3 linked regions of the Homo sapiens genome follow. The protein of the gene in region 3 purifies or fractionates together with the protein of the main gene of each other region. This does not show direct contact. Each region holds a gene or a part of one and is shown on either strand. Other genes may lie near its edges.

Region 1 (3,656 bases), on a different chromosome or scaffold from region 3:
TGTCAATACATTGACAGACTAGTAAGGAATATTCATAATTTGTGTGTCACCAATCTTGTTTTATCTATATTAGAATTAGATAAAACTAAAAAGAGAAAAATGCACATAACATGGTCTGGTCTTTAGCAATAGAAATATTAATCACATGTACATACTATACATATAAATAAATAATCAGCTTATATTATTTATTTTTTCAATATCTTAAATATTCAAATCTTTGTTTTGAAAGCACATACCAACAAAAACATTGACAGACTGTTTAAAATAAAGAAAAATATGATTCCTACCATTCTTTTCATTTGTCTGGTACATCGGGCACAATACCACACCAGGCGAGGGTCATTCGCTTCCTTGTCTGTCACCTGGGGTTTATGACAATCTCGGTGGTAGAGATTATGGCACTCCTGACATTCTACTAATTGATTGCCAGATGCCACCATCATTTGCCTAAGAAAACATACCATTAAACATTACACTACTTTTTTAAATGCCATAATTTAAAGTTATTTCAGGGGCCAGGTGTGCTGGCTCATGCCTGTAATCCCAGCACTTTGGGAGGCCAAGGCAGGCGGATCATTTGAAGTCAGGAGTTCAAGACCAGCCTGGCTGACACGGTGAAACCCTGTCTCTACTAAAAATACAAAAATCAGCTGGGCATGGTGGTACACACCTATAATCCCCACTACTCAGGAGGCTGAGGCAGGAGAATCGCTTGAACCCAGGAGATGGACGCTGCAGTGAGCCAAGATCATGCCACTGCACTCCAGCCTTGGTGACAGAGTAAGACTCTGTCTCAAAAAAAAAAAAAAAAAAAAAAAGTTATTTCCAGGTTGTTCTGGTAAAGTTTGGTATATTAAAAAGAAAAAAAATCCCAGAAACCCAAAGAGCAAATAACAAACCCCAACACTTGGCATGCACAAAAGCATAAGCTTTTAAAGCTTATGGTCAACCATTAATAAATATATAGAATGCCTTAATTAAATTTGGCTATTTTCTCGTCATTTCTCGTCATAATTTTTGCCTTTCTCTCAGAAGGTAGTAGACTCTGATTAGTCTTCCAACAGCCTCATAACATTTTGTATCTCCATTAAATTCCCTTATATTAGTTAGCTGTATGTTGTTGTTGTTCTTCATTAATATGAGTCACCTAAAGGTGAGTACTGGACCTAATTATCCACAGTCCTTAGCACATTACTGTGCACACATAGGGTGCTCAATAAATGTCTGATCAGATTAATAGAATGAAGCCATGTGTGTATAAAAAAGTATAAATTTCAACAGCACAAAAAGCAATCACCATAGCCTTAGATTATCAAAGGCATATATATCATAATATAATAATCACTTTCCCTCTGGAACCCAAAAATGCAGAAAATGTTACAACATAACAGATTTAAAAGCCATAGTTGGGAAAGACAAAATAGTTGACAATTTTCAATATGCTAAATTGTTATATGGGCAGTTACCTACTTATCTCCACCCCAGTTCCAAATAGTAAAAACAAAATAGAAAATGCACAACAATTTTTCTGATTTTGGGGGTTGAGGAGTGGAAAGGGTCATGTGTTCTTTATAAAGTAACAAAAGAATCTGTGGCAAGGTACAACTTACCTACAAACAACGCAGGCCAATCCCATCTCCATGGCAAAATCATCAGCACTGGTCTCCTCAAAACTGGAAAGGTCAGCCATAGGTAAATCCTTGCTACTTTGGACAGTAATGGGAGATGACTGTGTTTCTGGTTTCTCCAATCTAGGTTTCTTTGGAATATCAACTCCTTCAGTGATGTCTGATTTCATCTATAAAAAGCAGGCATCAGAAAATGATAAAGTAATGTGGTAGAATAAACTTTAAGTCACTGAAAGACGAGTGAGAAGGACAATTGGCAATGAACAAGTCCATTTTACAGATATATTCACATAGTTAGGGACAGATGTGCACATTAAAGATCTGTAGAAGAATTGCAATGAATTTATTAGTATATTAAATGAAACCAGCAAGATAGAAATAAATAAATCAGAACAGTTTAACAAATATTTGTATTTCTCTTTGTACTCTTCTATCTACTAAAGAATTATGGAAGATCGATGGATTTACTTAGACTAGTATCTACCATACAGACTTAACACATATTTGCTTCAAAGCAAATTCGGATTCCCTTCTTTAAGATATAAATATTATCAATATACCCATTAGATTTGGCAAAAATCAAAAAGTCTGATAAGACATGGAATTTGGAATTCTTATACTTTGTTGATGACAGTGTAAATTTAGTACATCTACTTTTGATAGAAATTTGGCAATGCCTAGTAATGTTGAAGATGTCATATCCTATTATATTCACTTATAGGTATACATCCTATAGAAACTATTAACATGACATATGTATAAAGTAGCTCACTCAAACTCCATTGTAATAGAAACAAAGGAGAAATATCTAATTGTGCATCAGTAGGGGAATGATAAACTGGTTAATCATTCCCCTATGATAAATCAGTAGGGGAATGATAAACTGGTATTATGTAGTAGCTAAAAGAAATCTAGATCTACATGCATTAACAAAGATACATTTCAAAAGCACATAGTTGAGTGGAGAAAAAGTTACCAAAGGATATACACACACACAGTATGATAACATTTACATAATTTTTTTTTTAAGACAGAGTCTTGCAGTGTTGCCCAGGCTGGAGTGCAGTGGCACAATCTCTGCTCACTGTAACCTCCGCCTGCTGGGTTAGAGTGATTCTCACGTCTCAGCCTCCTGAGGTGCTGGAACTACAGGTGTGCGCCACCACACCTGGCTAATTTTTGTATTTTTAGTAGAGAGGGGGTTTTGCCATGTTGGCCAGGGTGGCCAACTCCCGACCTGCTGACCTCAAGTGATCCTCCTGCCTTGACCTCCCAAAGTGCTGGGATTACAGGCATGAGCCACCACACCCAGCTTCACTTATGTAGATCTAAAAACAGAGAAATAATCTAATGTAGTTTATGAATAGCCACTATTTAGCAAAAGTATGAAAACATACGGGATAATATACTCCATCTTGAGGGCAAGGGTTACTGAAGATATCTTTCAAATGTATTTTTTTCTAACTACTAAAATCTTAATTACTATATGTAGAAATCATCTAAAAATAGACAATCCAAGAATCATCTTTGGCACTGTTCAGGTGCATACCACTCTATAAAGTTTATGTTTAGTCATTTACATCTATACTCTTTCCCATCTTTTCTTTCTTGCTTTCCTTTTTTTTTGAGACAGCGCCTCACTCTGTCACCCAGGCTGGAGTGCAGTGGCACGATCACCGCTCACTGCAATCTCTGCCTCCTGGGCTCAAGCAATCCTCCCACCCCCCACCCGCCCACAAACAGCTGGGACTACAGGTGCATGCCACCACACCCAGATGATTTTTGTATTTTTTGTAGAGATGGGGTTTCATCATGTTGCCCAGGCTGATCTTGAACTCCTGAGCTCAAGCAGTCTACCTGCCTCGGCCTCCCAAAGTGTATCTATCTTTTCTTCTTAACAACTGTTCCATCTAGGATCTCTGAGGCATAGATTAAAGTTTACACTCAAAGTTACTATACTCCCTAGGACTCAAATATTTATTGACAATAACTTTTAACCACTTAACTTTAAAATTTGTAAATTTT
Region 2 (3,656 bases), on a different chromosome or scaffold from region 3:
ACATACATTAACTTGTACTCCTTCCTAACACCTTATTATAGAAATGCAGTAATGACCTGCCCTGATGTCTGCCTATGGTAACAGGCATAGAGTCAGATGAAGTTAAATCTCAGCTCTTCCTATGCTTACTGGTAGACAAGTTACTTAAACTTTCTGAGTTGTTTTCTTCCTTATAGATATTGTAGGTTTATTGTGAGGATTAAATATAACTAACCATTTAGCTAATAGTGCAATCAAATTACTGTGGCTTAACTATAAAAACCATGAAGTCAGCCTCATCAGGCATCAGTGGACACGCTGATCATGCTGACATTCTATCTTAGGCTACTCTTCAAGATGACATGTATTACCACGCATCTCATTCAAGTGAAAGAGAATATTCGCTCCCTCCCTTCCTAAGTGAATACTAATTAGGTCAAGAACTAAATGAACTCCCAGGGCCAGGAGGTTAGTTCTTGGTAGTTCTATGAATATGTCATTCAGGTAAACTTAGATTGCTATACTATGAAAAAACAGGTGTTCATAAGTGTTCAGTCTGACATTTAAATTTATACTTAACAAAACTTAATTCATACATTTAAGTTTAAAAGCTCTTGTGCTTTTAAAACTGATAATTTCTAAGTAAGAAGTTCTCAGTTAAGGTCCAGAAAGTAAAAATCATCTTCTGAGCTGGAAAAAAAGGATTAAAAAAAAAGAGGCAGTCTGAAGCCTGGACGTTCCTGAGAAGTACAGGGATTTTTTTGTACCTTTAAACAAGCCACAATAGACAGGCTCTTGCAATGATTCCTTGAGATCAACAGAAAGCAGTAGTAATTCTACCATTCTGGCCGAATCAAACTGAGATCTGTGTGGAAGCATGGGATAAAAGCCATGCTGTAGCCCAAAGAAGGATAATAATAGAACCTACCTAATATAGTTGCTTTGAGAATTAAATGAGAAAACAGAGTAACACAAAGTACTCAACAAACGTTAGCTGTTATTGTTAATTTACTATAGTCTGTACTACATTGCTTTCACAGATGTAAACTCTTCCTGTGGACAATACCATTACCATTTGACATGAAACTGAGATAAGCAGTGAAAGTAAGAGACTTGGCTGAGTAAGCGGTTACTTACTTTCTCTTACTACATGACGTTAAGGTCACACACTTAAGAAATGATTTTAACCCATGCTCCTGCCTCTAGCTCCTCTGCACTTTCACTGTCAATAAAAAGCACCTCGTATGCTACTAGCAACTCTTCCTGTAAAGGAACTCTAAAACTCTAAAGTAGTAACTCAGAAAATAAGACTTTGAAGATTCTGTGAGCAATAAAAGAAACTTAAAAAAGCATATTCTTACTTGTATGAAGGCTTCTGCTGGGGTGGCAGAAGGTGCCAAAACAAACCTCAGTTTATCAGAAACCTGTGGATCAATGTCAACAAATACTTCTCGCCATCCCTGTGGTGTTTTCTAAACACAAAATAACACATAAAAACAAATTTTTGCAAGTTTGTTCTCTACATTGCTTCTACCAAAAATAGCTTTTTCTCCTCTTACCATAAGTAACTAACATTTACAGAGAACTTACTATTTAAAATTACTTAAATTCATTACTTCATTGCCTTTGAACAATGAGTAGACCAATCGATGCAAAAGAAACAATAACAGAGATGACGCTGTGGAAGATAAAATCAGCAGCATGGAAAGTACCCCAAAAACGGAAATAGACTCAGGAAGAACAGCCAGAAGCTTTACTAACAAATTACTACAGGATCATGAGAGCTGCTCTTCTCCTCACAAATTACCAGTACATATACATTATCACCAAATCTTAAATCTCCTCACAGAAAGAATGAAGAAAAGTTTTATTATTTTTTTTTTGAGACAAGCTCTCGCTTTGTTGCCCAGGCTGGAGTGCAGTGGTGCAATCTCAGCTCACTGCAACCTCTGCCTCCTGGGTTCAAGTGATTCTCATGCCTCAGCCTCCCTAGTAGCTGGGAAGTACAGGCACGTGCCACCAAGCCCAGATAATTTTTCTATTTTTAGTAGACACAGGGTTTTGTCATGTTGGCCAGGCTGGTCTTGAACTCCTGACCTCAAGTGATTCACCCACCTCGCCCTCCCAAAGTGCTGAGATTACAGGTGTAAGCCACCATGCCTGGCCCAAAAAAGTTTAATCTATAATTTTTTAAAATGTGCTAAGGTTGGCTGGGTGCAGTGGCGCACACCTGTAGTCCCAGCTCCTTGGGATGCTGAGGCAGGATGAACACTTGAGCCCTGGAGTTCAAGACCAGCCTGGGCAACATAGCAATACCCTATCTCTTAAAAAAGAAAATTTTTTTTTTGCTTAAGTAAATCCTTCATTGCACCACAGCCAGTTACCATCTTACCATTTTTCATTCCCTTACTTCTTCAAATCAGAAGAATTAAGAATTCTTAATAATTATCCCAGGAGAACTAACAATTCTCATTAATATTTCATTTTTTGCTTTTGAATTATTTGTGTACCAAAATTCCAAATAATAGTTAAAAATAACCTCAACAAGTAAAATTTGTATACTGAATAAATACCATAAACATTGGCAACACAATGCCTTTTGTATTCAATTATAGACATGACTTTTTTCCCCCCTCAATACCTGAAATTTATGCACAGGAAGAACATCAAAAAATTCATGTGCAAGATAAAAGCTGTACCCTATTTAAAAAGAGGAAAACAATTAATGTTTCCACATTTCACAGGAATTAATTCTTTTGAATATTAACTGTAAAAAAAATGCCTACTTCCTCCATAATCATCACTACCACAGAATTATCTACCTCTTCATGGAAAACTTACACTGCAGAACATAGAACAATTATTACTATTCTTATTTTACACATAAATGGGGTCAGAAAATGGAAATACCTGAAATAGCAGTTAAAGCTTTTATTCATCACAAGGCTTGAAAGAAATTAGAAGTCAGAGTTGTTAGCTGGAAGGGAATTTGATTTCATAAAATCGGGCTTCTCAGCCTGAGAAGGCTGAGGCAGGAATGGCTTGAGATCCCTTACCCAAGATCGTACCCCCACTTTGGCTTTGAGTCAAGACTCAAACTAGTCAATACTAGTCAGTATTCCTGACTAGTACAGGGATTTTCCCCCACACCTTGCTTGTCTTTAGGCAAGTAAGGATTTTTTAAAAGACTCTATAACTGAACTAAACCCACCTACTAACACTGCTTCCATCAGCCCCAGCTGCCTTGGGCTGCTCCGTCATCGGTACAACCCTAGCTATAGGGAAATACTCAAAAGTACAAAGGAGATTTACATTTTGTTTGGGATTTTACAAAGCTTCATGAAATAAACTACTACTTAATGTCAGGCAACTTTATTTTCTATTAAGATGCTCTTTTCTAGAAAAAAGTAGGCTACTCTCTATGGATAAGGGACTTGGCAGCAGTAACTCAATCTATTATATTGCTGTAAAAAGTTACAGTCCCATCAATACTGTGAGGGTTGTGATCAAAATTCTTTCATTAATCCACATAAAGGTAATTACCTTTTGGAACATCGTGCAGATCTCGGTACCAGGAAATTGGAATCCCAGACTTAGTGACACCTTTCATATACACTGGGGATCCAGCATTTCGCTCTAACGGGACCTTCTCTTTAGTCAGTGTCAATGCTTGAATC
Region 3 (3,656 bases):
GAGAACAAATTCTACTATAACTGCTACATATCCAGGAATTAGGTTTAAAGACATACCTAATGAGATGAGCTAGACATTTTTCTAGTCAACTTCCAATGATGGAAAGTATAGCACAAATCATTTGAATCCAAGATAGTCCCCCCAGGGCTCATTTCTCACTTCCCCTACATTATGCTATCAAACTTTAATTAGAATTGCTAACTGGGCTATGAACATATTTGGAGTTTTTACATCCTTTCCCAAACTCTGTTCATGCTCTAGTTGGGGTTGCTAATGAGGAATGAAAGAAGCATAAAGGGAGATGGGGGCGGGGATGAGAATTGACTGGCCACCTGCATTATCACCCTGGAATAAGTGCTAGTTATGTAACTTTTGAGCAATCTGATCAGAGAGGAGGTCATTGGCATCAATTATACAAGATAGGAGTTCTCTGCTATCATGAGGTTTCAGGATCAGAGACCGAAACCAGAAAAGATGATAAGCAAATTCAGGAAGATAGTCTTCAGGAAGAGTCAAGGGGTGGAGGTGGTGGATACCACTTTTCATTTCCCTTTGATGCTTCCCTTCAAAATTACCTTTGTACAGTTAGGTAACTTGTCCCCCATGGCAGTGTGTGGTAGAAAGTAGCTCTTGAGAACAAACCTCAGAAAATTGGGCCGCTCTACCTCACTGAGCCTAAGGGAACAGGAGGCCTAGCTGGGTGTGACAAAGGGACCACCCCACCCTTCATTTCTATACTTTTAAGGGTACAAATTGGGAAGCAGAAATAGGACAGAAAGGCAGAATCTTACATTAAGATGGGTTTCCCTGCCACTCTTTTATCGGACAGCAGATGTGTTAAGATGATCTTCACTTCCTGCATGCGTCTTATGTCACTGGAATCCAGGACGAAAACAAGCCCATGGGCCTGTGCATAGTAGTTTGGCCATGCTTCCCGGCCCTTCAGGTCTCCATTCAGGTCATAGATGGAAAGTTCATACTCATCTAACAAAAGTGTAGTCAGTTCCGATTTCATGCAATGGTCTGTCTTACTGGGAAGTACTGTGCATAGGGGAAAAGAGGAGAAGCAATCACTTAGATCGAAACTCCATACTCATCTAACAGGAGTAGAGTCGGTTCCGATTTCATGCAGTTGTCTATCCTGCTGGGAAGTACTATGCAGAGGGGAAGAGAGGAAAAGCAATCACAAAGTAGGGAAATATAGTTAGATCAAATAATTTGTTGAACCCTGACTAGAGCCTGCTCTGAGAAATCCCACTGAAGCATCCTGCCACCCTGCCCATACTTGGGGGCTATCTTCCTAAATCATCGCTTTACCCATGCTATCCTCTCCTGGCTCAGTAACCTTTAGTGAGTGTCCACTGCTTCCAGAGATAATACAGACTCCTTCACCTCCTAACCTGCCAGACCTATCTCCTAGCGCTGTAACCTGACAAGTGTCCACACTGTCCCTAGTACATACCCAATCTGTTCTTCCCTTGGCTCCTTTGCCCTTACTTCTCCCACTCTACATCAATGTCTTGCTCTCTCTTGCCCTGGGATGTTACAAGATGCCATTCTCTCTGCCTAGAACACTTCTACTCTTTGCTTAGTTAATGCCTATTTTTTAAAATGTCAATTTTGATCTTGTTTATTCTGGAGTTTTCCCACACACCAGCCATCTGGATAAGGTACCTTTCTTCTGAGTTTACCATTGTCATAGCACATATTACAGTGTTGTAAATTCTATGGTTTATTTATCTGGGTTGTAAACTGCAACAGGACAGGAACCCTTTCAATTTTATTGAAATTTATTCACCATTACATTCATGATGCCAAGCACATTCATTATTGGATTAATCTGATAAATGAATGAATGAACAGGAGGTCCTTCTCTCCCACCCTTCAATACCCAGCTCAAGTACTGTTTAGGAAGACTTCTCTGGTCTGTCCACTTCTCACTTCTCTCTCTCTTTCTTGTTGAGCACATGGTCTGTTGAGCTGGTCCTTCACCTCTTTTTGTGCTTGCTTTGTCTCTCCAACTAAAACGTAAGCTATATGAGGGAGGATGTCTGTATTACCTTACACACAGTAGGTGTTCAATAAATGTTTATGGTGGTTGTTACTGTAGATGAGGGTATGAAGTTGTCTCCCACATATCTCTTCCAAGAAACCATGCTAGACTTAGACACATTTTCCTTTGAAAAGCTATAGCCAGAACACAAAATCTCATAGGGAATTCCATACCTCATTCAACTCCCATAGAAATGGAGTTGAAAACGGTAGTCTTGGCTGGGCACGGTGGCTCGCGCCTGTAATCCCAGCACTTTGGGAGGCTGAGGCGGGCAGATCACCTGAAGTTAGGAGTTCAAGACCAGCCTGGCCAACATGGCAAAACCCCATCTTTACTAAAAATACAAAAAAAGAAAAAAAAAAACAAAAAACAACTTAGCCGGGTGCGGTGGCACACGCCTGTAATCCCAGCTACCTGAGAGGCTGAGGCAGGAGAATCGCTTGAGCCCTGGAGACAGAGGTTGCAGTGAGCTGAGATTACGCCACTGCACTCCAGCATGGGGGACAAGAGTGAAACTCCATCTCAAAAAAAAAAAACAAAAAACAAAAAAAAAAGAAGGAAAATGGAAAACAGCAGCCTTTATATGCGTTCCAGTCTGTTGAACTGACCGTTCTAGCCTAGCTCTCTTCCCACATTAGTAGCAAAATGACTTTATACATTCTCTGCACCCATACCTGGGAGCACTAAGACTAGAATGCATAACTTCTTATTTGTAGTCTTAGATCTGCATGTGACATTTTCCATAGCATTGCTAAAATGAGTCATTAACGTGAAAAGTTAGTAATATACTTTTGGGTCTTTGGAAATGAGAGTACATATATATGTGTGTATATGTATATATTATTATTATGTTTAAATGTGATTTTCATAACATCTCTTCTGATTTCATGTTAGGCAATGAACTGTTAAATTATAGTTTTCAGATAAAATAATTTTCAGCCAAAACTTTGATGTGATATTTGCTATATCTGTATTAGACTACTCAAAAATAACAAGTGGGCCAGGGACGGTGGCTCACACCTGTAATTCCAGCACTTTGGGAGGCCGAGGCAGGCAGATCACCTGAGGTCAGGAGTTCGAGACCAGCCTGGCCAACATGGTGAAACCCTGTTTCCACTAAAAATACAAAAATTAGCCAGGCGTGGTGGCGGGCACCTGTAATCCTAGCTACTCGGGAGGCTGAAGCAGGAGAATCACTTGAACCCGGGAGGCAGAGGTTGCAGTGAGCTGAGGTCTCACCATTGCACTTCAGCCTGGGTGACAGAGCGAGACGTCTGTCTCAAAAAAAAAAGTGAATAGGTTAAAACTCTAAAGGTAATATTAGAGTTTCCTGCATCGAGAAAAGCTTTATATATTTTTTTTGCCCTGTCAGAGAAAAAAATTTTTTTCCTAGTTTTCTTTTTCTTTTTACTTGAAACCTTACCAGTTCCTTCAGTTAGTGCATTCTATTGTTGGTGAACCCTAGATGCTGTGAGCGGTTGTTCCCTGACAATTTACATTTATCTTATTTCCTCTATTAACGTATAAACACTCTAAGGACCGGTACTGAGTCTGATTTCATTTCTGTATCCCTAGTGGAGTGTTTCATAAAGCATGGTCCGGG

What was found.
Region 1: the proteins of ARL13A (region 3) and INTS12 purify together in Homo sapiens (affinity purification with mass spectrometry; 2 studies listed by BioGRID and IntAct, with this or other methods). This does not show direct contact.
Region 2: the proteins of ARL13A (region 3) and NDUFAF7 purify together in Homo sapiens (affinity purification with mass spectrometry; 2 studies listed by BioGRID and IntAct, with this or other methods). This does not show direct contact.

The regions. Positions count from the first base shown.
Region 1 is NC_000004.12:105,691,686-105,695,341, forward strand, and holds part of INTS12 (integrator complex subunit 12), read right to left. Parts: intron 1,802-3,656; coding exon 1,614-1,801; intron 451-1,613; coding exon 291-450; intron 1-290. UniProt on the Homo sapiens protein: Component of the integrator complex, a multiprotein complex that terminates RNA polymerase II (Pol II) transcription in the promoter-proximal region of genes.
Region 2 is NC_000002.12:37,241,658-37,245,313, reverse strand, and holds part of NDUFAF7 (protein arginine methyltransferase NDUFAF7, mitochondrial), read right to left. Parts: coding exon 3,523-3,656; exon of another isoform or gene 2,890-3,522; intron 2,680-2,889; coding exon 2,621-2,679; intron 1,452-2,620; coding exon 1,341-1,451; intron 1-1,340. UniProt on the Homo sapiens protein: Arginine methyltransferase involved in the assembly or stability of mitochondrial NADH:ubiquinone oxidoreductase complex (complex I).
Region 3 is NC_000023.11:100,983,052-100,986,707, reverse strand, and holds part of ARL13A (ADP-ribosylation factor-like protein 13A), read right to left. Parts: intron 1,042-3,656; coding exon 792-1,041; intron 1-791.